7 linked regions of the Homo sapiens genome follow. The protein of the gene in region 5 purifies or fractionates together with the protein of the main gene of each other region. This does not show direct contact. Each region holds a gene or a part of one and is shown on either strand. Other genes may lie near its edges.

Region 1 (4,320 bases), on a different chromosome or scaffold from region 5:
CCCAGGCTTGCTGTGTTTATGCCCAGGGCTGGGTTTCAACATGATTGCTCCCTTCCAGGCCAGGAAAGTGCTAGCAGGCTACTCTCCTCTTCACCTCATCTCCTTATCCTCTTTAAGTGCCCTTACCTCATTTTTTGGGCCTTAGCCTTGGTCTTGACTAAATTGGGAGAATATCGTATCTACCATTTTGATCTGTTGTCTGGCTAGCCAGGAGCAAAACGGGGGTTCAGTGGAAATCCCTTCACCTCGGGTTATGGACAGCTTTAATGGACTGTTCATGGATGGGTCCTACAAGCAGCAGAGAGGACCACCATGCCTCTGCTCCCAGGATGGAGAAGGTGGGACTTCTGAGCAAGATCTTGGGGATGAAGGAGGAGCCATAGCCTATTGCCGAGAGCTGATGAGACTAACAGGACTGTTATTCTGTGTCCAAGAGGCCAAACAAGTTGCCCAGACCTAGGGTAGAAGAACCTGAGGATGGCCCGATATTCTAGCTAAAACCCAGAAGGGGCATCCAAGAAGATGGGAGGGCAAATTACTAATGAAGGCGGGCCAGTCCCTGTGCAGCCCCAGAGGAGTGGAATTGTGTTCATACATTACTTGCAGCCTGGGCCATGGGCCTCAAGTGCAGAGGGGAGACTACCTCTTTCTACCAGCCACAGTCTGCCCCAAAGTGAGAGGACAAGGTCCCGCCCCAGTAGCCGAGTTCCTGTTGCCCTTGGGGTCACTATGTCCAGACCTGGCCATGTAGCTTCTGTAGCTCTATAATGGGGATGGCAGTGGACTTCCAGGTCTCTTCTGACAAACCCGATACTAAAAGCACATTAGGGTTTGAGGTTCATTAAAGCTAAGGGAGACTATGGCTGTTCACTAAATCTTGAGCTGCAGAGGAATGAGAAGGCCATTGAGAAGACAAAACAATACCTTCTTAGGCTAGTGGCTGGCTGACTTCTCTAAATTGGGCTATATTAATATGATACTTGTATAGAATTTCCTAGTTGACAAAATGGTTTCAAATACATTATCCCCTCTGGTCCTGTGTGGTAGGTATTGTCAGTCTCATTTTACAGGTGAGAAGAGAATCTGAGGATCAGGGAGGGTAAGTGACTTGCTCACAGTTGTTGGAATTGGCTCTTATCATGAGTGCCCTATGGGGACTCAGCCTGGGTTAGTGGCTGGGGTTAGTACCGGGAAGAATATGAACAGAGCAGCTCACAGGAAGGTGCTCCTTGAAGCCTTTTTTTTTTTTCACCCTGCGTTCAGAGGGCTGAACTACCAGAGGAAGGGTTAGAGGAGAATAGAGCTCTATCATTTGTCTTAGAGTAGAAAGTCCCTGAGGCAGAGCAGATCTCAGAAGGAGAAGCCCTTTAGTAGGTATGAGTCCCCCTTCTCAAACAGTTTTGCTAACGTAATGTATTCTTGCTCTATGGGGGAAGGCTAGTGTTCCTGAGCGCCTGTAAGTCAGGGATGGTTGGGTCTATGAGGCTGCCTGGAGTTCCAGATATTGTGTAGAACCCTAAGCAGCTGCTGCAGCCTCAGTTACCTCAGGGCTATTGAGCTCCCACTTTCATGCACTGGGAAAAAAAGTCACCTGGTTTTCCTTCAGTTTCTTCTGTAGTTGAAGGGCCAGCACCTGCTCATCCTCAATCTTACTGTTCTGCTGATTAATGTCAAACTCCTTCCTGCAGGAGAAGGGTGGGGGTGGGGGAGTGACAGGTAGCCTTCCTTCCTCTGGGGCTCATTCTCTTCTTGGCCTTAGTATGCCAGAATCGGCACCTCCCCCTCCCCTCGCCAGCCCAGAAAGTGGCGGAAGAGGGCTGTGATTGACCTTATTCCCAGCATACCCAAGGCAACTGTGGCCAGTGGAGGCGCAGCACCCTGCACTCTATCTACCAGGCCAGACACCTCCATTAGCCCCTCCTGGCCACCACAGTCTCCTACTTCTTAAGCTTTTCTTCCAGCTGCAGTTTATCATTTTCCAGGTCCATGATGCTCTCCTGGGTCAGCTTCAGGTCGCCCTCCAGTTTCCGCTTTGCTCGCTCCAGGTCCATGCGCACCTTCTTCTCTTGCTCTAGGGATCCCTCCAGCTGTTGGAGGGAAGAAAATAAGCAAAGTGTGGAAAACATGAAATCCATAGTGTATGCTCTTTTGCCTCCTTCTAAACTTGAAGTCCAGTGGGATTGGAAGTCAAACCAACAGAGAAATCCTGCAAGCACAAAGGATTCAGAGACCTACTGTAGTGAGGAACTACAGAGAGCAAAAAAGCTTCAGGGGCCATAGAAGTTAATTCTAGGGATCAGGACTTTCTGGGCCATTGGTGTTGCCTGCAAAATCTTGCTCTGAGAGCAGGAGCATGGTTCTTACTACTCACATCATCCACCTGCTGCTCCAGCTTGACCTTAGACTTGGACAGGCTGTTGACCTTGTCTTCCTCAACCTGAAGGTCATCCAGGGCCTGCTGATGGGCCTCTTGTAGAGCTTTCTTCTCCTTGGTCAGCTTAGCGATGATTTCATCCAGCCCAGCCATCTCCTCTGTTAGGTTCTTCACCTGCCGACCAAAAACCCATCCCCTTTAGGGTCAAAGATCACCAGCCTGGAGACATCTATGGGGACCTCCATGCCAAGGACCAGGACAACACTCTAGTCTGGGAGTCTTGAGGAGACCTGGGCTGAAGCCAGAGGGAGCTGCCCTCACCTTGTTCTCTGTTGCATGCTTCTCCTTCTCCACCTTGGCCAGTGTCAGCTCCAGGTCATCAATGTCCTTCTTGAGCTCTGAGCACTCGTCTTCCAGCTTGCGCTTCTTGGCAGTGAGCTCCGCGTTCATCTCCTCCTCATCCTCCAGCCTCTCATTCATCTCCTTTACTTTGGCCTCCAGCTGAATCTTGTTTTTGATCAGCTGGTCGCAGCGCTCCTCAGCATCATTGAGGTTGTCTTGTTCCTGGGAGAAGAGAACAGGGAGGAAGCTGATGGTTAAAGAGAGGAGACCTAGGGTCTTAAAAAGAGCTGGCACTCCTAGACTCCCAGTCCCTGGTTGTGAGATGGGCTATAATCTAGGGGAGGGGAGGAGAGGGCTGAAGAGATAATCACGTGGCCTCACCGCCTGCACTTGGAGCTGCAGGTCATTCTTCTCCTGCAGCAGGGACACCATCTTCTCCTCCAGCTCCTTGCGGCGAGCCTCGGACTTCTCCAGCGTCTCTTTGATGCGCCCGAACTCTTCCTTCATGGTGGCCATCTCCTTCTCCGTCTCTGCGCTCTTCAGCAGCGGCTTGATCTTGAAGTAGAGCTTCATCCAGGGCCAATTCTTGACCCCCATGAAGGCCCGAATGTTCCACTGGATTACCAGCAGGGCATCCCTGGCAAGGAAACGTGGAGGCAGGGTGGGGCACTATAAAAGAGAGCTTCCCAATCATGGGCCCTACTAAGCAAGTTCGTAGGCACGTAGACTTCCTTCTTGTGCACACCCACCTCCAACATCACTACACTGAACATGGAGTTGCTTGATAAATATTTATTAATCAATTTGATGAAAGGGCAGTTTATATCCTCCCAGCTGGGATATTAGTGGTAATGGAAACTACCACTTATAGAATGTCTACTCTGTTTGGTTTTTCTATTCTCATAAGAACTTCAAATATGTTAAAAATTATGTAGGGGTTTACATATAAGAATGTCTATAATAAGTATGTAAGTTATGCAGCATGAAAGCAAAATGACTATCCATGAACCTACCACTGAAACAGGAGCTGAAATGTTACCAGCCATTGATCTACCTGTGCGTTCCTTCCTACACCCCTGTCACCCCGCCAGGAGCAGCCGCCACTCTGAATCTTATTTTTCCTTTCCTTGCTTTTTCAAAAATTACTTTAACCACATATGAATGTATCTTTATTTTTATTTTACTTTATTTATTTTGAGATGGAGTTTCACTCTTGTTGCCCAGGCTGGAGTGCAATGGCACAATCTCGGCTCACTGCAACCTCTGCCACCCGGATTCAAGCGATTCTCCTGCCTCAGCTCCTGAGTAGCTGGAATTACAGGTGCCTGCCACCATGCCCAGCTAATTTTTGTAGTTTTAGTAGAGACGGGGTTTCACCATGTTGGCCAGGCTGGTCTCCATCTCCTGACCTCAGGTGATCCGCCTGCCTTAGCCTCCCAAAGTGCTGGGGTTACAGGCATAAGCCACTGTGCCCAGCCATATGTATGTATCTTTAAACAATGAATGGCTGGTTTTGATTATTTATGAGCTTTATAAAAATTGCATCATACTGTATGTATCCTTCCAAGATTTGCCTTTGTTTACTAACAATATGCTTTAATGTT
Region 2 (3,905 bases), on a different chromosome or scaffold from region 5:
CAATTCAGTTGTCAGACATAATGATTTATTTGAAGGCTTGTTTTATTTGAAGAAAAGCATATTGCCAAAAATTCTGGTTAAAAGCTTCCTAACGGGTAACAGACCATGGGAGAGATATGTGGTTGGGTAATGCAAATGTAGTTATACAAAGAAAAATACAGATGTCTCCAGACCTGAGGACTTTTTAATAGGGCAGTTGTTGTGTTGGTGGCACATTGGATATTTCTAACATGTACAAAGCTATGTATTTTGATTTACTTTCATTTCTTGCTATGTATATGTACTTTTCTTAAAATGCCAAGAACTTTCTCTTGCTATCATTGCTCCTTTTGAAACAATTCAATTTTCATGTCTACAGCTGACTGTTTTGTTAAGATTGAGTCATCGACATTCAGGATTTAAGTCTGAGGTAGTCAACCCTCAGGAAAAAAAAAATGGCTTATCTGAAATCAGTACTGTGGAAATGAACTATATTAGCTATTATGAATAATGTCCAGTATAAGAATATGCTTCTGGAATTGAGTTCTCCTTTTAAGTACCAATGATACTTAAATTTCTCAGAAATGTAATGGTGTGTCATTGCCTTGAAATGCTTGCTTAGGGCTTCTTTTATGTTATCTTAAAAAGTGCTGGTGAATTTTCCATTTTTTACATCCATTTCACATGTAAGAGACAAAAAAGTCTAGATTGGTCTTGATATTGAGATAATAAAAAGTAAGTAGCATTAAGAAAGGTAACAATCTTCATTCTACAGATGAACTCATTGAAACAATTTAGGGGAATGAGGGGCAAAAGGGGAGAAATACTGCTAAAGAACATGAGCATAAAAATGCGTGCGTTTCAGTGTTTAAGAAGGCTTGATAAAGAATGTCACTTTTTTATTTAACTGATAAGATTTTTGTTATTTTTTACTTTGATAAGTAAACCAAAGAATATTTGTATTTCAAGCAGTTTGTGTGGTGTTTCTATATAATTTTCTGTGTATAAATAATAAAGTAGGCATTTGTTTATTTTGTAAAAAAGAAATGAAAATCTGCTGGCCAGCTATGTCCTCTAGGAAATGACAGACCCAACCACCAGCAATAAACATTTCCATTGTCACTGTGTCTATGATTTTTTTTTTTTTTTTTTTGAGTCTCGCTCTGTTGTTTAGGCTAGAATGCAGTGGCATGATTTTGGCTCACTGCAACCTCTGCCTCCCAGGTTCAAGTGATTCTCCTGCCTCTGCCTCCCAAGTAGCTGGGATTACAGGCATGCACCACCACACCCAGCTAATTTTTGTATTTTTAGTCGAGATGGGGTTTCACCATGTTGCCCAGGCTGGTCTTGAACTCCTGACTTCAAATGATCTGCCTGCCTCGGCCTCCGAAAGTGTTGGGATTACAGGTGTGAGCCACTGTGCCTATGATTTAGTGTACTCTCTTGCCTTAAATTTGCCTGCCTCCCAGAATATTGACATTAAAATAATAGTTTACCAGGAAAGGTTCCACAACTAAAAATTCCAGAAGTTGAGATCTGCTCTAACCCATTTCAGCCTAGAGAGGGTGGTCAGTTTCTCTGACACCCTCATTTGCTTGGCTAAGACAAGCAGCAAAGGTGTAGAGTTTCTTCCTGTTTGATATTAAATCCTGACACTAAGATTTGAACTGAAAGTATCATTCTCACTTCCTAGAGCCAGTAGGTGATCAGTATATGCTGTAACAATAACACAGTGACTACAGAAATGACCCTTCTAGCTTCATAACTTGCTAAGTGGCTTATAAATGGAATTCAGCAGCCTTCCTTGACCAGCTGTTTTCCTCACATGTGAAGGCTGAGAATGTGATGGGGGGTGTGAGCTACTGACTGGATGTGTTCTGTTCTCCAGATCTCAAACAGCAGAGGTATGGGAAACGAAAGCCCTGGGCAGTCCATGGATGCTTCTTGCTCATCTGTAGCTATAGACAGGACCAACCAGAGAGAGAAAACGTACGGAGGGAGAAATCTGGATCTCTCTGGACACACTGGATCATAGGGTTGTGCCAGCAGGCTAGCAATCAAATGTGCATGGGATTGGGGGAGCAATGCTTCATCTCCCACAGAGGGAAGGCAGTGAGGAGTAGACCGAAGGAGGGAATCCTGTTTGCTACCATTTCTCAGCATTTTCTGGAGGGGACCCATCTCCTTACCAGTGCTGTGCCTGAAAAGCATGTCTTGGATCAGGTCCAAAGTCGTGATTAGCAAGTTCATTTCTAATACAATAGGACTCCCCTTGAGCATTTAGGGTGGCAAGGAGCGTGGGAGCTGGGAAGAATCCCCACGTGCTTAGGGTAGATAAATCTGAGCCGAGTTAATACTAATTTGGGGATCCTATGAACCTTTTTATAAAATAGTATCTGTTCACGTTTTGAAAAAAATTGTGTTGTAATTGATTTTATTTTGTGCTGGTGGCTTCTCTGCAAAAATTATGAGTGGATATGATAAGTGGATGATAATACTAATGGACAACTAACGCAGAGTAGTTTGTATTATGTGTCGGGCACATTAACTCATTTAATTCTGCCACAATCTTCACCATCTTATAGATAAGGAAACTAGGGGAATAGAAGTTAAGGAATTTCCTGAGGTCACATGTGCTCGAGGTGTCCCAGCCGGAATATGTATAAAATCTTATTTTCACTTAAAGATGATATGGCTAAAGGCAGTGCTAGGAACATCTTTGGCTCAGAGAAGCGTGGGCAGTATGCTGCTGAAATGGTTCCTCATATAGTGACATTTTAGGCAGTACCTAAGTCAGCACAGGTCTGGCCTGTTCTCTAAAGATCTGTGTAGATGTTGTACAAAGACATTTTTCAAAGTTTTCAACATGACTCCTACTTTGGGGGCATCTTGTGGCTCAGTTTTCTGTCTCGTGGAACTTCACTTCTAGGTGCTCACAATGACTTTTAACGTTGACTTCTGAGGTGCAGTGAGCTGCTCCCCCACAGCTGTCCCTAGCAGTGGTGGGTTCAGAGCATGACAAGGCACTCAATGTGCATTCACCAAGAGAAGCAAGGAAGCAGCAGTTCAGTACTGTGCTCCCTAGAGTAGGCACGGCATCAGTTTCAAACTTCAACATTATTTTCCAGATTTGGAGGCTCAAAATATTTGAGCAAGTTAAGTTAAGAAATAGCCTTTTTCTGATTATTAGGCCTTTCATATACAACTCAAAATTAGTTTAAGAGTAAAGCATGGGGTGGGTGCGGTGGCTTATGCTTGTAAGCCCAGAACTTTGGGAGGCGGAGGTGGGAGGATCACTTGAGGTGAGGAGTTCGAGACCAGCCTGGCCAACGTGGTGAAACCCCACTGCTACTAAAAATACACAAGATTAGCCAGATGTGGTGGCAGGCACCTGTAATCCCAGCTACTTGGGAGGCTAAGGCAGGAGAATCGCTGGAACCTGGGAGGCAGAGGTTGCAGTGAGCTGAGATTGTACCACTGCACTGCAGCCTGGGCAACAAGAACGAAACCCCGTCTCAAAAAAAAAAAAAAAAAAAAAAAGCATGAGTTAAGAACTTTGATCGTACAGAAATATTGCGTTTTAAACTCTTATATAATAGTATGCCATTCACAATTATCTGGAAAGTTCTTTTTCTCCCACCATGTGAATACACACACACACACACACACACACACAATTTTTAAGCCCCCAAAGGCTTAAAATAGTACTTTTTGTGGTCTGTACCGGTCAGTTGGATTTTTACTAAGAATTTTAATTTATCCTTGAGATACTTGATGAGTGTATATAAGCAGTTGCAATTTAGCATACAAAACCTGACAAATGGTAAATAAAAGAATATGTTTATCCAAATGATGAAATATTTGTAGTAAAAAGTGCTATTCAATTGCCAGGAAATTAAAATACTCCAGTAAAATGAATTAAATTA
Region 3 (4,320 bases), on a different chromosome or scaffold from region 5:
TCTAATATTTTAAAATGAGATTTTAAAAAAGGGAGATAGAAAACATACCGAGCAGTTAGTGTGAGCCACTATACTTGGCATTTTGACATGTTTCTATTCAACTTGAGTATGTGTAACAGAAATGTCAGTAATACAACATGCAAAAACTGGAAGGTAAATATATTTAATTGGACTGCCAATTTCACTCAGTTACTTGAGAGCTGCAAATTTATTAATAGATTTAGATTTCTTTGGTAGGAAGCTCTGTTCTTTTTAATGGGAAACTCCAACCACTTGTGAACATAAATTAGAGTGATACTGTAAGAAATACTCAATGAGCCTCCATGAAGAAACAGTTATAAGGTATTTCTTAGAACATCCACCATTCTTGTAACTTAAGATTTTATGTGCTCCTTGGAAACAAATTCATAATTCCTAACAAAAAATCTTAATCTCCCAGAGTTAGCTAAGAGGCAATTCAGCAATGTCTACTAAGTCAAGATGGTTACCATTTATACCAGGTGAACTACAACAATGTTAAACTAATCTATCATCTGTGTACTTTCTAGCAAGGAAAACAAAGAACAAAAATAAGATGGTAAATATTATACTTATTTTTAAGACACGAATATCATTCTGTATAAGTATTCAAGTTTTGTCTAAAGGAAGAAAAAATCTTCAAACAATTTTGTCAGTTTTTTTTTTTTTTTTTTTTTTTTTAAGAGATGAAGATCTCCTATGTCTCCCAGGCTGAAGTGCAGTGGCTAATCACAAGCACAATGCCACTACTGATCGGCACAGTAGTATTAACCTGCTCCCTTTCCAACCTGGGCCAGTTCGCCCCTCCTTAGGCAACCTGGTGGTCCCTGCTCCTGGGAGGTCACCATACTGATGCCAAAGAGTACAGACATCCGACTGGCATAGTGCATCACAGCCCAGAACTCCTAAGCTCTAACAATCCTGACTCTGCCTCTCAAGTAGCTTGGATTACAGGTGCACCACCATGCCTGGCCAAGTTTCTGACTTGCCAATCAGCATTCAGCATCAAGAGTACGATTATGGGTAGAAGCAACAAAATCAGATTAGAGAAAATCCTTCTGGGGGAAGAAAGTGCACTCCAAGAAGGGCACAGATGTGAAAAAACTGCAAAGCATGGAATGGAAATCCTATTCCAAATTCTTTCCTCTGTTGCTTCTACATAGTTACTACCCTTCTGCCTATAATCACCTAAGTGTTCCTTCTTTTTCTGAAAAGTATAAACTCCCATTCTTTCCTTCTTAACTAGCCAAGAAATTTGCTTCCACAAGTTTAACTTTTAGTCATTTATACTGTATATACACAGGTAAATCATTCCGAAAATTGGGTGTAAAACACTCCAGTAGTCCATGCTTCTAGCATCTCTTTCACTCTGTTTTTCCTAGGGCAGTATTCTATTCAAATACTACTTATAAATAAGCCATATATACAAATGCCAGTTGCTATAATGCTACCAAAAATAACCTGTCCACACTGCATGCTGACTTCAAGATCAACAGTGCTGCTATCCTCAGCTCCAGGTATCACCATGTAGCCTAAGTCCCCTGCACCCACCCGCCATAACACTGTGTCCACTCCTCCCTCTTTTTCACCTGTATCCAGAGCAGGGTCAATGGTGACACTGCAGGACTGCCAAGCCACTGGAATAAAAAATACCCCTGCCACACACTGCTGAGGACTAGTGTTTTGGTGTGTGTGTGAGAAATAACAGAAAGTAAATATGTTCTTGACAATGTTTTTGCTGTCAAAGATTAAATTTTATTTTATTATATTTTATTTTGAGATGGAGTCTCGCTCTGTCACCCAGGCTGGAGTGCAATGGCGCAATCTTGGCTCACTGCAACCTCCGCCTCCCGGGTTCAAATGATTCTCCTGCCTCAGCCTCCCGAGTAGCTGGGACTACAGGCGCGTGCCACCATACCCAGCTAATTTTTTGTATTTTTAGTAGATACAGAGTTTCACTGTGTTAGCCAGGATGGTCTCGATCTCTCGACCTTGTGATCCACTCGCCTCAGCCTCCCAAAGGGCTGGGATTACAGGCATGAGCCGCCGCACCCGGCCTAACTTTTAAAATTTTATCCTATAGTTCAGCTTGAGTACAGTTATACCAAGCATTATAGACTTTTGTGAGCAGACACAGGAACATAACTTTACAAAAATTAAATACAAATTTAAAACACAGTCTGTTTCTAAATCAAGTTTTAGAAGTATATGCAAAAATTGTGTTGGTAAATTACTGTGAGAGATAGGATTAAAGAATTTCAGGATTAAAGAATTTCAGATTCTCAATTGTCTGAAAAACAAAAGGAAGAAACATGCAAATTTTTTTTGCAAAAATGTCTCTTTTTGTTGTGATAATTGATTCTCATTATCTAATTCATAGATAACCACTCACCCTTTGTTGATAGAATATTAACCATTTCCATCCTCTTCAGCAACATTAATTAGAATCAACTAGAAAGCAACAGGCTTCCAGACCTCTTGTTTAAGTTTTTAAGCAGTAAAGAAGTATAGTACTTGCTCCCTTTTTGTCAGTCTGGCCCATTTTGGAAGAATTACAACCTATTTGCTAGTTTCCTTGAGTTTTATAGTTAGCTCACAGAACCACAGAATTCAAAAAGACTATAATCTTCAGGAATCTGTTTCTTTCTGTAAGAAACCAGGAATTCCATTTAAGTACTATCTCTTCCCCCAAAAAGGAAAGATTATGCTATTTCTTATTAAACATGACTATAGAGTAGAAATAACATACAACAGAAAGAATAACTCTCCTCAACCATATCCACCCCCAGAAATACTAAGGTTAACAGTTAGGCACATATTCTTCCAGATTTAAGGAAAATAAAAACGCATACAGATATTATGTACTATTTAGAATCAGCATACAAACATACAGCTGTAGGTCAGGTGGTATCAAGGGACAAAGAAAAGAGGAAAATAGGAAAGAAAATGCCATCTGCTATCATTCCTTTTTCTGGCACTAGTAGGGGGGCAGTCAGGGTCTCTCATGCTCTGTCACCCAGGCTGGAGTGCAGTGGCACAAGCATAGCTCACTGCGGCCTCAAACTCCTGGGCTCAAGCAGTCCTCCCACCTTAGCCTCCCAAGTAGCTGAGATCACAGGCATACACCACAGCATGCTGCTAATTTTTAAATTTTTTATAGAGACAGAGTCCTGCTATGTTGCTCAGGCTGAACTTGAACTCCTCAGATCAAGCTATCCTCCCACCTCAGCCTCCCAAGTACTTGGGACTACAGACCATGCAAAAAGCCTGGCTAATTTTTAAAATTTTTCTGTGGAAATGGGGCTCTCGTTATGTTGCCTAGACTGGTCTCGAACTCCTGGACTTAAGAGATCCTCCTGCCTCAGCCTCCCGAAGTGCTGGGATTACAGGTGTGAGCCACTGTGCCAAGCCCAGGTCCTTACTTTTATCACAAGTACTGTATCACTTATTTACAAATTAATCTTCTCCTATGAGAATGTAAGTTTCTTACTTGTATCCCTAATAGCAGAGGCCCGCACACAAAGAAATGAAGATTCTATAAATGTCTGAAGAACTAATATTTCTAATTAATGATTTTCACACATTATAAACTATGACATCCTTTATTCAAGTCACGTATTACTTAGAAGCCGAATATTATTAAGAGTAAAATATGGCACACTACTTGGATCGAGCAGCCCAGAGACTCCATTCAGCCCTTCACTCACTCCTCAAACAAATTTGTGTTGTAAATGTACTTACTTCACAGGGGCTCGTGCGTAAACCTGAAGCCAGTCAGGAATTTCTGCAGTATGATATGGATTTGCAGGTACCAGAAGGGACTGATTTCTTTCAGTTTGCTGTGGCTGGTATGTGACAGGAGGTGGTTGATCATACCGAGGTACACTAAGAAGAAAGGAGTGACATTCTTTAGGATAAAGGTCTTAAAATCTAAACAAGAAATTATAAAGAACAAATAATACTTAAGCATTTTTCAGTGTGCCTTCTGTCCAAACTGACTTACACCACCTGAAAGGTAATGTATTTTTAAGATATTTCTTCTGGCTGGTATTTAGTCTTTTCAAAAACAGGTTCAAAGGAGGATATGAAAAAGCTGGAACTAAGTTTTAACCTTTATACAAAGGCTTAAAACTAGAATAGTAAATTCCCACAAGAAATAGTCATCAGCTGTAAATTCATATCAGAAAGGTTGACAGTTTCTAAGAAAGGATGTTTCCTTCCTCCCGTAGGCTGAAAATGGGGGTTAGGATATGTAGTGACGCAGCAGTGAGTATTGTGTTTGAAATATCTCTATCCAATGCA
Region 4 (3,478 bases), on a different chromosome or scaffold from region 5:
GGCAGGATGAGACCTCTCACCCAGAGGCCCAGGCAGCTGCAAGGCCAGCTTGTGGGTGCCGTTGAGCTCATCTGGAACCATGTGGGAGGCCAAGGCCAGGCCTGGGGTCACCCATGGGCTGAAGCTGGAGGAGAGGGAAGCAACAGCTGGAGGAGGAGGAGGAAACTGTCACCATGATGGAAAACATGGGAGAAGGTGGGAGTCAGCTCCTCAGAGCCCAGTGCCCCAGCTGAGAGGTCAGGAGGAGGAGGCCCTTGTGACCTTGGAAGCCAGAGCAGGACACCAAGGAAGGACCTTGGAGAAGGGAATGTGGAGGTGAGGCTTGTGGATTCAGCAGCAAACGAAGGGGTGGTGGTTAGAACGGTGACTGGAAGGACTGTCCTCTCCTGTTGTATAACTCAGTTCCATGCTGCAGAAACACAAGTCTTTCCCATACTACATTTCAGAGGCAAGGTTGAACTCAGGTGACTTATCTACCTGCCCAATGAGCCAGAGACAGGTTTTATTTTTTTAAAGCATTTTAATAAAATTAACAAATAAATATTCTAAACTGTATAGGCTACAGGGACAAAGGGTAGAAGCTAGAGGGCCAGTCTTTCCTGCTCAGGCCCTCAAGTCCCCTTTAGAGAGACCCTGCTCTGGGCTGGTTTGGGGCTAGGACTGCTGACTTGGGGAGGCGGGGAGTGAACCCGGAATGGGTGATCTGGGCTCTTGCAGCCATTCCTCTTTGTTGGTGTAGGGGAGGAGAGAAGAGGTCAAAGAAAGCAAGACCCTGCAAGAGGCATCCCAGTGACCCCCAGAAGTGACTGGGGTAAGGGGAGCGCTATCCTAGAAGGAGGGGGTGGGACGGAGGGGGCAGTGAAGCAGGGCGGTGAGCATGGCCAGTGGTGGGCTTCGGCCGCGGTTCTACCTGTGGCCACTCACTCTCGGACGTAGACCCTGGTGCACACAACGTCATCCGCCGTCATGGTCTGGAAGGACAGAAGTAGTTGTTAGCCTGAGAGGCCCCTGGGGTCCTGTGGCTTTGGAGAGGAGGGTTGAATGGAGGTACTCTGCTTGGCCTCCAGGTCCAAACCTGCTTCTTGGCTCAAGACCAACAGGCAGGAGCTGGTCCCAGAATGCCCAGGCATCAATGGAGGGAGGATAGCAATAGAGCCCCTGGGGCCCGTCCTCCTCCTCAAGCCAGGAAGATCTCCCTGAAGAACTGCTGGGATCCCTCAGTACATGCCCTTTGCTTGCATAAAAGGAACACCATTTCTAATTCACACAGGGCACTGTATGGGATAGGGACACCTTAGTTCTGTTCAAGCAGTCCCATCAGCAGGGTGCGGAGTCCAGCCATGGTTGTTCTTGAGTCTCCTGCACCCTGGGGTCTCCCAGAGAATCTTGGAAGGTAGCACTGGGTTTGCTATTAGTGGGGAGGAGGCAGGACTTACCAGGATCAGTTCCCCATCGTTGGTCAGTTCTCTGGTCCACGAGGTCTTGGGGCCCTCTCCCTTCAGGAGCTTCTGCTCACAGACCATTTTATTCTCACTCTCCCATTTCACCAGGCTCTGCAAGAGACAGGTGGCCAAGTGAGCTGGGCCCATAGCAGGGGCAATGCAGTGAGAGGGATAAGGGAGAGAGCCCCTTTCTAGCCCCCACCACCACCTAGGGATTTTCCCTACTGGGACAGAGAGAAGCTAGGAGTTAACTGCTAGCCTGGAAAATGGCAGGTTGAGAGGCAGGGCAATGACGCCATGACCCTGGAGCCCCTTCTGGCACTCACCTTACAGGGCCTCCCATCCACAGTCTGCTCCTCAAACTCCTCCCCAACCTTGAAGTTAATCTCTGTGGTGCGCACGGTGGTGGAGGTTTTGATGTAGAAAGTGTCTCCCTCCTGTTTGATCTCCACTGCTGGCTTGGACGCTGCAGCCACAGCAATCTTCCTCAGCATCACATTCACCCCTGTGGGGAGAGAGGAGAGGCTCACCTTTTAGGGGCCTTTGGGCACCTCTCTCACACCCTCCCCATAAGACAGTTGGAGCAGGCTGATTTGTGACTTGCTTGGGGTGGGTGTGTTGGGGGGTGCATCTGCCTGGTGCCTGGGTGTCTAAGAAAGTGCCTTGAAGGAGACGGTAGGCGGTGCAGCCCTGAAAGATGAGGGGGTTTAGGGAGGAGAGGGAGAGAGGCAGTGGCCTGCCCCTGGGAGTCCTGTTCCTAGCTGTGGCCCCACCTTGTTGAGTCAGCAGGTCTGGATCAGGCTCCCCACGTCTCAGCTCTTCAGTCCCAGAATGCCCAGGGGCAGCTTCTCCCCAGCCCCCTACCCAACAAACATCCTGCTACTGGCTCCGGTTGTCTCTGTTTACTTCACTTTTGGCCTTTTGTCTACCCTGTTGACAGCTCATCAGAGTCACTGGGACTGTACCCCTGGCCAAGCACAGGCCAGACCCCATCACTCATGTCCTGGGAAGTAGGAGCCATTTCCCTTTTTGCCCTATCTACCCACCGTATCTAGTGCTAGATAGGTCTTCATTTGCCCAATTTCTGCCCCACAGCAATGAAAGAGAGCAGGGGCAGCTGCTTCCCTCTACAGAATGGTCAGCAGCCTGGGAAGACAGAGGCTCTGGAGTAAGGTCCAGGAGGCTGTGATTTCCTCCTGGCTCAGCCCCCTTACAGGCTGGGTGACCCTGAGCAAATGGCTTAACCACCCTGAGCCTTAGATTCCTCAATTGTAAAATGGAAATAACAGCTTCTTCAAAAGCCAATCAAGGTTGGGTATAGTGGCTCACACCTATAATCCCAGCACTTTACAAGGCCAAGGCAGGTGGATTGTTTGAGCTCAGGAGTTCGATACCAGCCTGGGCAACATGCTGAAACCCCGACTCTACCAAAAAAAAAAAAAAGCCAGGGCTGGACGCAGTTGCTCACACCTGTAATCCCAGCTACTCAGGAGGCTGAGGCAGGAGAATTGCTGAATTGCTTGAACCCGGGAGGCGGAGGTTGTAATGAACCGAGATCATACCACTGCACTCCAGCCTGGGTGACAGAGAGAGACCCTGTCTCAAAAACAAAACAAAACAAAAGTCTGGGCGCAGTGGCTCACGCCTGTAATCCCAGCACTTTGGGAGGCCGAGGCGGGCGGATCACGAGGTCAAGAGTTCAAGACCAGCCTGACCAGCATAGTGAAACCCCATCTCTACTAAAAATACAAAAATTAGCTGGGCATAGTGGCGCGCACCTGTAATCCCAGCTACTTGGGACGCTGAGGCTGGGGTAGGAGAATCACTTGAATCCGGGAGGCGGAGGTTGCAGTGAGCCAAGATCACACCACTGCATTCCAGCCTGGGCGACAAGGCGAGACTCCATCTCAAAAAAAACAAAAAACAAACAAACAAACAAAAACGACCTGGCGCAGTGGCCCATGCCTGTAATCCCAGCACTTTAGGAGGCCGAGGTGGGTGGATCATCTGAGGTTGGGAGTTTGAGACCAGCCTGA
Region 5 (4,320 bases):
ATAACCTTTAAAGATTTTTTAAAATTAGGGGGAAGAGATAAATTAGAAAAATAAAGATTTCCTTCAAGTTTTATACCAAAAGTCTCACTGGGCTATTTTTGTATTTTAAATAAATTACATGATATTTTGCTGGAAAATAATTTTTTCTCCTATCCCATCCTCTCCAAGCAACTTCTACTCACATTATAAGACTCACTGTCAGTTTTAATCTCCCCTAGTAAACCTTTTGGCCTATGGTAGAAGTGACTACTTCTACTCTGCCTCCCCTGTACCATATATTTATTTCTATCATATTTCTAATAGCTTGTGGTACCTATTTATGTTTATGTCCTACTGAAATATATCCATTAAGGCTAGGGATTATGTTTTAGTGGTCTTTGTATCTCCTAGTGCTCAGTAAATTGCCTGGCACATACTTAATACATGTTTGATAAAACTTTTTCTGGTGCCAAGCGTGGTGGCTTTTGCCTGTAATCCCAGCACCCTGGGAGGCGGAGGTGGGAGGACTGCTTGAAGCCGGGAAGGTTCAAGACAAACCTGGGCAACAAAGCGAGACCCCCTCTCTACAAAAAAACTTTAAAAATTAGCCAGGTATGGTGGCATGCATCTGTAGTCCTAGCTACTCAGGAGGTTGAAGCAGAAGGATTCCTGGAGCCCAGGAGTTTGAGGCTGCAGTGAGCCATGACTGCACCACTGCACTCCAGCCTGTGTGACAGAGCGAGACACTGTCTCCAAAAAAAAAAAAAAAAAAAAAGAAAAATCTCTGGTTATGAATAAAATGAAATGATGAAGAAAGGAATGCCAAGTGAAGCCAGACTACCTAAGACTACCTAGTCTCTCCCGCTGAACTCTTGGAGGCAGGGGAATTGGTATACAACTCCAAGTACGATATTAAATGGATTTGGGGCAAACTCTGTTAAGTGGTAGAATGCATTGTCATTTAACCAAGTTTAGATACCTTTAACTTGGGCAGGCACTGTGGCTCACACCTGTAATCCTAGCACTTTGGGAGGCCGAGGTAGATGAATTGCTTGAGCCCAGAAGTTCAAGACCAGCCTGGGCAACATGGTGAAACCCCATATCTACAAAAAATACAAAAGTTAGCCAGGTTGGTGGTGTACACCTGTGGTCCCAGCTACTTGAGGTGGGAGGATGACCTGAGCCCAGGGAGGTCGAGGCTAGAGTGAGCCGTGATTGTGCCACTGCACTCCAGCCTGGGCGACAGAGCAAGACCCTGTCTCAAAAGAGGGAAAAAAAATCTTCAACTTGTTGCATGGTAGGCAGTCAATAAATATTTTTTAAAAAGCTGAATAAATGAACAGTATAATCTTCCTTATTTGTAGAGGAGCTAGTCAGCTACTATAGAGGGAAGAAAAATATACTCCCTCGTCTATTATTTGTTCCTTTTAAAGTCTTATCCCAGATTAGAAAATGGAGAGGCTTCAACTAATAATAGAATATTTTAAAAACCCTTTTTGGAAAAAAAAAATGATACAGTTAATAATAGTTATTTATGCTTCCAGTTTCATCACTTATTTCAAACAGGAGAAATAAAAAATATACACAATGAGATGAACAATTTTTTTTTTTTTTTGAAACAGTCTTGCTCTGTCGCCCAGGATGGAGTGCAGTGGCGTGATCTCGGCTCATTGCAACCTCTGCCTCCTGGTTTCAAGCGATTCTCCTGCCTCAGCCTCCTGAGTAGCTGGGATTACAGGTGCCCGCCACCTCGCACAGCTAATTTTTTTGTATTTTTAGTAGAGACGGGGTTTCACCATGTTGGCCTGGCTGGTTTCAAACTCCTGACCTCAAGTGATCTGTCCACCTTGGCCTCCTAAAGTGCTATAATTACAGGCGTGAGTCACTGTGCCTGGCCAAGTTTAATATTTTTTATTTTAAGGTATATTTAGGATTTTTCAGTTTAAGGCAAAAAAAAAAAAAAGAGCACAGCAAAAGATTCAGATAATTCAAAGATGGATGAATAAAATTATATAAACTGAAGCACAGAGAGAAAACATGTAGAATAAAAGAAAGAATAAAGCATAAGAGAAATGGAGGACAGTATCAAAGGAATAGCACATGTATAATCATTAGAGTCTCAAAAGGTAAGAAAGCAAAATAAATCTTTGAAGGGATAATGACAGAGAATTTCCCCAAATCGATGAAAGTCATTAATGTACATTTCAAGAAACTGAGTGAATCTCAACCAAGAAAAATACAAAGAAAACTACACATAGGCACACCATGGTCAAACTGAAGAAAACCAAAGTTAAAGAGAAGAAAACCCTAAAAGCAACCAGAGAGGTCCCAGTTTTGAGGAAGATGTACTACATATACTCTCCTGTCTCCCTCCCACAGAAGGCAGCTATAAAACCTGGTCAGGATGCAGGAAGCAGCTACTTCAAGATCCTGAAAAGTAAATAATAACAGGTAGATTAGGGGAGAAGATGTAAATTTGAAGTACCATTAAACCTGGTGACCATTTAAAAAAAATTATTTTTTTAAAAAATTAATTCTCACTATGTTGTCCACGCTGGTCTTGAACTCCTAGCCTCAAGCAATCCTCCCACCTCAGCCTCCCGAGTAACTGGGACTACAGGCCTCTGCCAGCACACCCAGCTCCATTTTTTTGTCTCTAGTAGTCTGCAGGCTGGACTCAAGGTAGCCCAAAACTTGGAAGAAGCTGAGCACAGAGAGCTCTAGGAGAATTCCCTCTAGTTCAGGCTCAGGGAGTAGAAAAGGAGTTTCCTGGTAGCAACGGAGGTGGCAATAAGAGCCAGTATGCACCTAAAACTGACAGCCAAACCTTCCTCTCCAATTGTAAATAAAATAACAAAGCATGGGGCTGGGTGCAGTGGCTCATCACGCCTGTAATCCCAGCACTTTGGGAGGCCGAGGCGGGTGGATCACTTGAGGTCAGGAGTTCGAGACCAGCTTGGCCAAAATGGTGAAGCCCCGTCTCTATTAAAATACAAAAATTAGTGGGGTGTGGTGGTGCATACCTGTAATCCCAGCTACTCCGGGAGGCTGAGGCAGGAGAATCACTTGAACCCAGGTGGCAGAGGTTGCAGTGAGCCAAGATTGTGCCACTGCACTCCAGCCTGGGTGACAGAGTGAGACAATATCTCATAAATATATAAATTAATAAAGCATGGGGTCCCAAGAAGATGGGTTGAATCTCTGTTGCTCGTTTTCTCTCTGTGTCCTTTTGCCACCTTGTCCTGGATTCAGATGCAGTTATGAGATATTGGCAGAGTTGGATAAGTAAAGCCTCACTTTCTGGTCAGAGAACTAAATAGGGAGCCCCAGGGAACAGGAAAGTACTGGGGACATCACAGAGAGGGAGGAGATTGGGCAAGTGACCCCATTAAGTTGCTTATGAACTGCTGGGCTCCCCCTCCAAACTGTAACTATGTGGATCTAATCCTAAGGAGCATACCAAAGACTTTGAGAACTGAACTAAGGAAAAGACCACAGCCTACAAAGAGATCTATCTGCCTAGAAAGGAAAAGCCTTTGAAACTGACATTGAAATCAAAAAAGACTGGTTGGAACTTGTGGCCTGAACCCAACCGGGTTTAATGCTTGTCAAAACAAGGTCAAAATTCTCCATAAGATCCAGAATCTTGGCTGGGCACGGTGGCTCACGCTGTAATCCCAGCACTTTGGGAGGCCAAGGTAGGCAGATCACCTGAGGTCAGGAGTTTGAGACCAGCCTGGCCAACATAGTGAAACCCCGTCTCTACTAAAAATACAAAAATTAGCTGGGCATGGTAGCACACGCCTGTAGTCCTAGCTACCTGGGAGGCTGAGGCAGGACAGTCGCTTGAACCTGGGTGGTGTAGTGAGCCGAGATCGCACCACTGCACTCACTCCAGCCTGGGTGACAGAGAGAGACTCCGTCTCCAAAAAAAAAAAAAAAAAAAAAATCCAGAGTCTCATAACATATTATTCAAAATGTCCAGGATACAATCCAAAATAACTTAGTATACAAAACAAACAAACAAAAAACAAAAACAGAAAATTTCAACATAGAAAAAGTCAGTATTGATATGACATAGATGCTAGAATTTTCTGACAAAAACTTGAAAGTAGCCATTATAGGCCGGGTGCGGTGGCTCATGCCTGTAATCCCAGCACTTTGGGAGGCTGAGGCGGGCAGATCACAAGGTCAGGAGTTCGAGATCAGCCTGGCCAATGCGGTGAAACCCCGTCTCTACTAAAAACACAAAAAAATTACCCGGGTGTGGTGGCGAGCAACTGTAGTCCCAGCTACCTGGGAGGCTGAGGCGGAACAATTGCTTGAACCCGGGAGGCGGTG
Region 6 (4,320 bases), on a different chromosome or scaffold from region 5:
GACCCTAACTGGGTCTAAGACAAAAAGTAATTAACTTGTCTTTCTCGGGAAAGGATTATTACTCAGTGATAAATCAAAGTATGTCTCTTTGATCCTTCTCACTCACCCTATCAGCTTGTTACCAGAGATAAAAAAAATAATAATAATTCACAAGCTCTGATCTGTGATCAGAGGGCCTTTTCTTCTCAGTGCATCAACTTCTGGCTAGGGGACTACAAGCAGGGAAGTATCTTCAAGGAAGCAGTAGGAGCCAGAATGAGAAGCTATAAAAGCGGCGGAACCATCCATCAAACAGACAAGCAGCTCCAGGAGAGCTGCCCAGAGGGCAAATTCTCACCATACCTGCACACCCCGCCAGCCCCTGAGTTTTCTTTTGCTAAAAGTTTCTCATTGTGTTCTGATCAAGAGGGCCCTTAGAATGGCCATCACCTCTCATGAATTCCCATCAAGCTGGCAAAAGCTGCCCATAGTGAGGAGAGCAGAGAAGTATCTGACCTGTGGGGATGTTGCTTAGGCTATGGGGTGAGTTTTTGCATTAAAAACAAAACAGATGGAGACTCATCTTGGGCTCAAAGCCACTGGCATTGTCACCACCTTGCCTGGCCTCCTGGCTCACTGAAGCAGCTCCTAATCCAACTCTAAGGTCTGCCGGTGTCCTTGAGCTCCTGAGTGTAGCAGATTTGGGGGAAAAAAAAATCAACAGGGAAAATGAAGTAGAAATGGGGTAATTATTTTCTTGAACTAAAGGTTAATGGCTAAAATTTGCTAGTCATTATTACCCACATGAATGGAATGGAAAAGCATCTGGAGAAAAAACAATAGTGAAAATCTCCTTGTTCCTTTGTGATAATGCAAGGAGCTCTAAGGAGGAGACCCATGCCAAGATTTTGGCTACAGGCTATTTGTTTAATACGAGTAACAAGAGAAGAGGATGAATACAACCAAAATGAGGTTATGGGACCATGTGGACATCATTAAGTATCAAGTTGGCAGGGGAAATAGCTAAATTAAATGCTTAGACTGATAGGTTCTTGATGCTAATGTTGCTTTTAAGTGGTCTGGAAGAAGTATTGAAAAATCATTTTCTACCAATAAATTGCTTTATTCCATGCTGGGAAAGCTCTCTCCCAACAGCACCTACCCATTTCTTCCATTCCAAGCCAAAGGTTTTCTTTGCTAGAGGCAAAGGTACACCTTGCACAATTTCCTTCTAGGTTTGCAAAAAGTCATATCTGTATAAAAATCTCTTAGCACTACTCTAGTGGGGCTGGCCAGAACTGTGAGGTTGAGAATGTTCTTAAGGTTTTCCAAAAGTAACAAGGTTGCTACAGATTCAATTTCTGACCCCAGGAACTTGGCTTCCTTAAAACTTTGGGCCTTGATTGTTCTTTTCAGGTTGAATCCCAGTGATGGGTTAGGAAGACCTGGAAATGAAGGTGGCCTAATGGAATCCATCAAAGCAAATTTTAAGTTACAACTGTTTCGGAGTTCCTAAAATTAGGCTTGGCTACCTTATGGTGCAGCCATGGTGAATGAAGAGAAGTCAATCTGGCTTTGATTAGTTCTAGTTAATAGGTTTTTTTTAAAGGAGTGAAAATGTTCATGGCAAGCAGCAATGGAGATTTTTTTTTGTTTTTCTGAGACGGGGTCTTGCTCTGTCATCCAGGCTGGAGTGCAGTGGTGCCATCTCGGCTCACAGCAACCTCCGCCTTGTGGGTTCAAGTGATTCTCCTGCCTCCCTCCTGAGTAACTGGGATTACAGGTGCACGCCACCACACACGGCTAATTTTTGTATTTTTAGTACTGATGGGGTTTCACCATGTTGGTCAGGCTGGTCTTGAACTCCTGACCTTGTGATCTGCCCACCTCGGCCTCCCAAAGTGCTGGGATTACAGGCGTGAGCCACAGTGCCCAGTCGAGATTTTTTAAAGTAGCTATAATCCAAACATTTTCTCATTAGTAAGAGCAGATTCACTTCGTTGTTCTATATGTGCCTGCATAGTCCTGTTCTGACAACTTAACTGTCTCCCCAAATTGTACAATATATTTTTTTAAAGCGATGAGGTTTAGTCCTGTCATCCAGGCTGGAGTGCAGTGGCAAAATCATAGGTCACTAAAGCCTTGAATTCCTGGGCTCAAGCGATCCTCCCACCTCAGCCTCCTGATTAGCTAGGACTACAGGCTCCTGCCATCATGTCTGGCTGGTTCTTTTTTTATTATTATTTTATTTTAGAGATAAGATCTCATTATACTGCCCAGGCTGGCTTCATACTCCTGGCTTCTAGTGCTCTTCCTACCTCAGCCTCCCAAGTAGCTGGGACTACAGGTGTCCCCCACCATACCTGGCTCTGTACATATTATGAAGAAGAGCTATTCATGTCTAGTACTAGGATGGATCTTCAAGTGGTAATATGTATGTATATATGTATGTGTGTATTCACGTATGTGTGTGAATTTTTGACAGAATAAGTTCAATGGAGAATTATTTATCCAATTACTAAGTTATATATCCAATTACTATAATTTTCTTGAATCTGTGTGAAACATCTATTGAAAGAAAATCTGAATACAAAGCTAGACATATCACAGTCCAGACAATACTGGTGAGTCTTGACTTACGGATCTATACAGAAGGCGGTATAGGGATGTTGCTCTTTAATACCTAACTGGATGTGGGGGACAGCTTTCCTTCAAGAAAACAAAACACTAAAAGACACAGCAAGGTGAACTTCCCCAATACCAGCTTACCCAATTGGAAGTCTGAGCTTTGAATAAACAGCAAAATGCTGGCTGAGGCACTGGCCTCAATAACGTACCAAGTACACCTGTTAGAAGCCACAAATGAGAATGGAAGATTTATCTGAAAGGGCAAAAACTCAACATTTTGTGTAATAAAGTACTACCTTTTAAATGCTCAATGATTCCTTAAAAACCTACCACGTTCCCTGCATAAGCCCTGCCCCTTGCTCAGTGCCTGAAGCATGTGCTTTCACACTGGAAAATGCCCTGGGAGAGGAGGACACTCACCCTGATCATCATCTCTCTCTCTATAATGCTGTCTTCCAGGGAAAACATTTCAGACACAGGTCTCTCCTTCACAGGCTCTTTTTTGACCCGCTCCTTCACACTAGTCAGGTCGGGTTCCGAGATGGATGGGCCGAGAGAGGCCCCGTTGACAGCCGGCGGGTCAGTCCGAGACATGCTGATGGCCTTGGCTGGCCCATGCCTCAGCACCCTGGCTCTGGCCATGGCGGGAGGAAGGCTGGCTTGGTCCTGCCTCAGAGCCCCATTGCTCACACTCTTCCTTGGACCGGGGTACTCAGGCGGGGGCTTGTTGGGGATGCGGGCCAGGGCCGCCTGCAGCTGGGCACTGTACTCCATCTTCTCCCGGAGCATGGGGATCTGGGGCACCGATTCTGGAGCCTCCTCCTCCTCCTCCTCACTCTCGCTGCTGTGGATTAGCATAGTGGCATCAGAGAAGGTCTTCTTGTGGTGATACTGAGGGAGCTGGGGGACCTCGTGGCTGCCTGACCCCTCCTCGGGCGGTCCCTGCTCCCGGAGCGTGTTGCGGCGAGCCATGGGGAGGTGGAGCGACTTGAGCGTCATGGCCTCCATGCCCCGCACCATGCTGTTCATCACCTCCAGGCTGTGGCGCTTGTTCACAGTGCCGTGGTGCTTGGTGGCCGTGAGGGGCTCGCTCACCTCCTGGAGAGACTGATGAACCACCGGAGAGCTGTCCTCTTGGAAGGTCTTCACCGAGAGCTGCACCTTCCGGGTCACCAGGTCCGGGCTGCTGCCGCTGACGTACTTGTGGCGGTGGCTGGCCAGGTCTGGGGTGCTGGTGGCAGGTCGTGGCCGTGGGTAGGGGGGCGGTGGCCTGAAGAGATAGTTCTTAAGCATGTGGGCCGTGCTGTAGTTATGGCTGCCCTGCAGCTGCATGTTGGCCAGCTCTGGGGTGCTCACCGTGTGCGAGATGGCGCTTGCCCCCGGCTTGCTTGGTACCACATTATTCTTTGGGTTCCTCTGGTCAGATGGACTGACAAGTTTGTTGCTGTAGACCCCCTGTGGCCCATAAGGGACAGTGTAGGGGTGCCTCTCCCGCATCTCCGGTTGGCTGTACACCAGATCCTCTGGCTGGTTGTAGGCATGGGTGTTGATAATGTTGAGGTTTCTCAGAGACTGGCTCTGGCTGTCTGTATGCAGGATCCCCCTCTTCATCTGGCGCATGACTGTCTCATAATCGGGGGTTGGCCTGTACGAGGGCACGATGATCGCGCTGTGCCGGTGGCTCGGGATGTAGTCGGCCCGCATGATGTCACT
Region 7 (4,320 bases), on a different chromosome or scaffold from region 5:
ACTTTGGGCCGGGAAGGACCCTGAGAGGTCATCTTGGCTCAATAGAGCTAGAGGGACTTGCCCAACATCACACCCTGAGCTGCTGGTGGTATCAGGCCCAGAAGACCTGGTTTCCTGACTCCCAAATATGTGTCTTTCTTGCACAGTTCTGTCTCCTATGTGACAGTCACAAATCAACAGATGTAAAGAAACATAACTTTTTAAGACCCCTGGCAAGAATGATCATGTCAAAATAACCGTTTCATGTTCTGGACTGTTAATGGAAAGAGCAGGAGGGCTGGATGGAAGAAACAAGACATTCTTTCCTGGTCACAAAAGAACAGAGCAGAAACATACCATACCAAGGAGGGAGGACTCCAGAGAGAAAGCATGACGGGACAGGCAGACGCTGTGGGAATCCATGTCGGGACGCGCCAGGGCTACAGCTCCCAGCAGATCAGCCTGCTTGGAAGGGATTGGTGGCATTGGCAGCACAGCACTGGCCAGAAGAACATCCGTTGGGAGCCACCAAGGCAAGGACCTCAACAGGCTCAGAGAAAACAAGGCTGGGATGACGGGGAAGAAGGAGCAAGGTGAGGCACAGGAGGGGTGGGCCAGAGCGAGGGTCTCCAAGGTCACAGTGAGAGGAGTGTGAATCCATCGCACTGGCTGTCCTTCCCCACAGCACTCAACCCAGTGCTGAGAACACAGTGTGACCTGACACGTATGCATCATTGACCTGCTGATTGAGCAAAAAGATGAACCTATCTAAATGAAGTTTGAGAGCTTCCTCACCTCTGCCCCTGGAAAACTCTGAAGAGAAGTGCTGTGGAGAGAGATGGCATGCAGGGACGGGGCTGAGGCACATGATGTAGTCACATCCCTTCAGAGAACACAGAGGACCGAGACGGTATCCAGTCCTTGACCACTGACCACACAGGAGTCACCGCTGTTACAGGGCGAGCTTCCAGCCCAGGAGGACATACAGTGGAGGTGGCCCTGGGCAGACGGCACCAACTCCTTGCTGTCTCCAGCCCAAGCTTCACCCAGGTCAGCCACACGATCTCCATTCATCCATCCCCAAACATGCCATAATGTGTTTTTACATTTTCCAAGTTTTTAAAAGTTACATCAAATCCCATGTTTGTTTAAAAGCCCATTTTTGCTATCAGAAATCAGACAGCTGATCCTTGGACACTTGGTGGTGACTGTACAGGGGCACAAGGAGCGTCCTGGGTGATGGTCATGTTCTGCCTTGATCTGGGTGTTGGCTACACAGATGGGTTCACTTTGTGAACATCTATGATATGTGTACATCGTACATCAATAAAAGGTTAAGAATACATGTCTTCCTGACTTAGGAAGATTGCCTGGTCCATTAAAAAAATGCATGGGCTGGGCACAGTGGCTCACGACTGTAATCCCAGCACTTTGGGAGGCTGAGGTGGGAGATCACTTGAAGCTGGGAGTTCAAAACCAGCCTAAGCAATATGGTGAGACTCTGCCTCAATTTTTTAAAAGAATGCACAGAGACTGCCCGATGTCTAAAGGATTGGGCATCCCCATATCCCTGGGTGTGCATCTGCAGGGCCAGAGAGATTGGAGTCTTGAATGTCACTGACAAATGTTACCAGCAGAGTCAGAAATTTACTTCCATGTCAATGGAAACCTGGATTCGGCTGGTTCAAATTATGGCACATCTCCAAAAGGCATTCTGGTGGCAGTCCCCACGTCATCATATCTAGTCATGCCAGTCACTCAGACAGAGGCACACAGCTGTTGAGCTTCTGTCACTTTCTTCCACTTCAGCAGTTGGTTTGGGTTTAATGAAATGCCTGATATGGGAGGAGGCTGGTTAGCCAGTGCCTCTGGGGAACACAGACAGACCTCTGTTCTGGAATTCTGGAGGGGCTGCTTTATTACAAGACTAGCCCATGTTGTTTCCTTTTATGTGAAAAATGCTCGATTTTTTAATCTAGGCTGGAATTAAGCACCATATTTCAAGCATCTATTGCTAATAAAGTCTGATAAACAGTAATTAAAAAGTCATGAAGGGCCAGGTGCAGTGGCTCACGCCTGTAATCCCAGCACTTTGGGAGGCCAAGGCGGGCAGATCACCTGAGGTCAGGAGCTCAAGACCAGCCTGGCCAACATGGCGAAACCCTGTCTCTACTGAAAATACAAAAATTAGCCGGGCATGGTGGTGCGCGCCTGTAATCCCAGCTATCCAGGAGGCTGAGGCAGGAGAATCGCTTGAACCCGGGGAGGCGGTGGCCGCAGTGAGCCAAGATCGCACCACTGCACTCCAGCCTGGGTGACGGAGTGAGCCTCCGTCTCAATTTAAAAAAAAAAAAAAAAAGTCATGAAAACGAGGAGCAGCTCAGTGTGCAACAGACTGTCAGATGGAAGGGCATCTGTAGTCATGTAGACATGCAGATAGGGCATCTGTAGTCATGCAAATAGGACATGTAGGTACATAGATAGGACATCCACATGTTCCTTGCTTGGACTGCTCGTTTAACCCTGTGCATTGCCAGGAAAGTAAAATCAAGTAAGACAGGCTCCCTGGCCCCGGTCAGGGCAGGGCCATTCTCAGGAGGAGTCACACCTGCTTTCAGGATCCCAGGCTAAGGGGGGTCTGTCACTGCAGTTTTCTGGGTTAGGATACTGCTGAAAGGACATCCACCAAAGACAGAAAAACCAAACACAATGCCAACCCTTCCTTTCTCCATGCTGGTGAGGAGCAGGCCTGTCCATCCACTTCCTGGGTACAGGAGACCCTGGAACCTGCTTATTCTTGCCTTTCCCACCCCTCTGGTCCTAACAGCGAGCAGAATGTGGCTCTCTCCTGGTTAGCTTTAGCCGTGACAGATCCCCAGGCCCACCCACAGCAGGGAGGGTGAGCACAGGGGCTTCAGGTCCAGGGGACACAAAAGTCCACAGCCCAGGCCGGGCGCAGTGGCTCACGCCTATAATCCCAGCACTTTGGGAGGCCAAGGAGGGTGGATCACAAGGTCAGGAGATCGAGACCATCCTGGCTAACACAGTGAAACCCCATCTCTACTAAAAACATATATATAAAAAATTAGCTGGGCGTGGTGGCGGGCGCCTGCAGTCCCAGCTACCCGGGAGGCTGAGGCAGGAGAATGGCTTGAACCTGGGAGGCGGAGCTTGCAGTGAGCCAAGATCGCGCCACTGCACTCCATCCTGGGCGACAGAGCGAGACTCTGTCTCAAAAAAAAAAAAAAAAAGTCCACAGCCTGAAATATGGGGGAAGAAGGCATGGAAAACGCAAGGAGCCCACAAAAGCTCCCTACAGTACGTGGGTGGAGAATGAATCTGGAGGGGCAATAGAAGGCATCCACTCAGACGTGAGAGACCACCTAGTCCCACCATGCAAGTGGTCAGAGCAGAAGCAAAATCCCGACTGGTATGGGAGCACCACTACTTGTACCCATATGGTCTTGAGCAAGTCACTTAACCTCTCTGGCCTCGGTTTCTCAACTGTAAACAGAGAATGGTGCCTACATCAAAACTAAGTGTGCAGGTTAAATGCCAACAAGGCCCACAAAGCACTGAACTCCAGTGCCCGGCACACCACTGGCACTTGACACACGGTAGCTACTACTAGAACCATAATGCCCAAGTCACCCGCTCCTACCTGCCCCCAGGAAGGGGGCACTGTGGGGATGCTGCAAAGGCCCTTCGATGAAGGCGAGGACAGGGGAGGGCACAGCTGCTGGGGTGCGGCAGGCAGGTTGCCCTCCTGTCAGCCCCTGAAGAGACTATCCCAGCTGCACAGAGCTGCCTCGCCCAAAGTCACCATCTTCCTGGGCAGCCCACAGCCAACAGCTGATCCATGAGGGAGTGTGAAGGCCAGGCCATGTCAGGCCAACTAGGATGACCCTAAAGGACTTTTCCAGCTCCCAGGCTCCCTGCGGGGTCAGGTCCCAGCAGCTCAGCTCTCCTCTACCCACTCCTGATTCCTTCTCCATCTTCCACAGGTGGGGACCCCAAAAGCACCTTTTAATAAGCCCTTGTATGGTCAACTCTGTCTCAGTCAGCTTCCCAGGAAACCCAGCCTATGACAAGTGGTTTATTTGTGGGGTTTTTTGTTTTTGTTTTTGTTTTGAGACAGGGTCTCCCTCTGTCACCCAGGCTGGAGTGCAGTGGCATGATCATATCTCACTGCAGCCTCAGCCTCCTGGGCTCAAGCAATCTTCCCACCTCAGCCTCCCAAGTAGCTGGGACTACAGGTGTGCACCACCATGCCTGGCTAATTTTTGTGTTTTTTGTAGAGATGGGGTCTCACTATGTTGCCCAGGCTGGTCTTAAACTCCT

Evidence for each region.
Region 1: the proteins of LATS1 (region 5) and MYH6 purify together in Homo sapiens (affinity purification with mass spectrometry; one large-scale study listed by BioGRID and IntAct). This does not show direct contact.
Region 2: the proteins of LATS1 (region 5) and TNFAIP8 purify together in Homo sapiens (affinity purification with western blotting; 2 studies listed by BioGRID). This does not show direct contact.
Region 3: the proteins of LATS1 (region 5) and SAV1 purify together in Homo sapiens (affinity purification with western blotting; 3 studies listed by BioGRID). This does not show direct contact.
Region 4: the proteins of LATS1 (region 5) and CRABP2 purify together in Homo sapiens (affinity purification with western blotting; one study listed by BioGRID). This does not show direct contact.
Region 6: the proteins of LATS1 (region 5) and PTPN14 purify together in Homo sapiens (affinity purification with western blotting; 2 studies listed by BioGRID). This does not show direct contact.
Region 7: the proteins of LATS1 (region 5) and LIMD1 purify together in Homo sapiens (affinity purification with western blotting, with the first as the bait; 2 studies listed by BioGRID). This does not show direct contact.

What each region holds. Positions count from the first base shown.
Region 1 is NC_000014.9:23,390,971-23,395,290, forward strand, and holds part of MYH6 (myosin-6), read right to left. Parts: intron 3,354-4,320; coding exon 3,098-3,353; intron 2,939-3,097; coding exon 2,696-2,938; intron 2,549-2,695; coding exon 2,372-2,548; intron 2,088-2,371; coding exon 1,942-2,087; intron 1,683-1,941; coding exon 1,592-1,682; intron 1-1,591. UniProt on the Homo sapiens protein: Muscle contraction.
Region 2 is NC_000005.10:119,393,499-119,397,403, forward strand, and holds part of TNFAIP8 (tumor necrosis factor alpha-induced protein 8), read left to right. Parts: 3' UTR 1-3,905. UniProt on the Homo sapiens protein: Acts as a negative mediator of apoptosis and may play a role in tumor progression.
Region 3 is NC_000014.9:50,636,991-50,641,310, forward strand, and holds part of SAV1 (protein salvador homolog 1), read right to left. Parts: intron 3,904-4,320; coding exon 3,760-3,903; intron 1-3,759. UniProt on the Homo sapiens protein: Regulator of STK3/MST2 and STK4/MST1 in the Hippo signaling pathway which plays a pivotal role in organ size control and tumor suppression by restricting proliferation and promoting apoptosis.
Region 4 is NC_000001.11:156,699,106-156,702,583, forward strand, and holds the end of CRABP2 (cellular retinoic acid-binding protein 2), read right to left. Parts: intron 1,948-3,478; coding exon 1,769-1,947; intron 1,554-1,768; coding exon 1,437-1,553; intron 972-1,436; coding exon 921-971; 3' UTR 501-920; downstream 1-500. UniProt on the Homo sapiens protein: Transports retinoic acid to the nucleus. Regulates the access of retinoic acid to the nuclear retinoic acid receptors.
Region 5 is NC_000006.12:149,662,234-149,666,553, forward strand, and holds part of LATS1 (serine/threonine-protein kinase LATS1), read right to left. Parts: intron 2,410-4,320; coding exon of another isoform or gene 2,287-2,409; exon of another isoform or gene 1,083-2,286; coding exon of another isoform or gene 984-1,082; exon of another isoform or gene 959-983; intron 6-958; coding exon 1-5. UniProt on the Homo sapiens protein: Negative regulator of YAP1 in the Hippo signaling pathway that plays a pivotal role in organ size control and tumor suppression by restricting proliferation and promoting apoptosis.
Region 6 is NC_000001.11:214,380,284-214,384,603, forward strand, and holds part of PTPN14 (tyrosine-protein phosphatase non-receptor type 14), read right to left. Parts: coding exon 3,028-4,320; intron 1-3,027. UniProt on the Homo sapiens protein: Protein tyrosine phosphatase which may play a role in the regulation of lymphangiogenesis, cell-cell adhesion, cell-matrix adhesion, cell migration, cell growth and also regulates TGF-beta gene expression, thereby modulating epithelial-mesenchymal transition.
Region 7 is NC_000003.12:45,600,854-45,605,173, reverse strand, and holds part of LIMD1 (LIM domain-containing protein 1), read right to left. Parts: intron 1-4,320. UniProt on the Homo sapiens protein: Adapter or scaffold protein which participates in the assembly of numerous protein complexes and is involved in several cellular processes such as cell fate determination, cytoskeletal organization, repression of gene transcription, cell-cell adhesion, cell differentiation, proliferation and migration.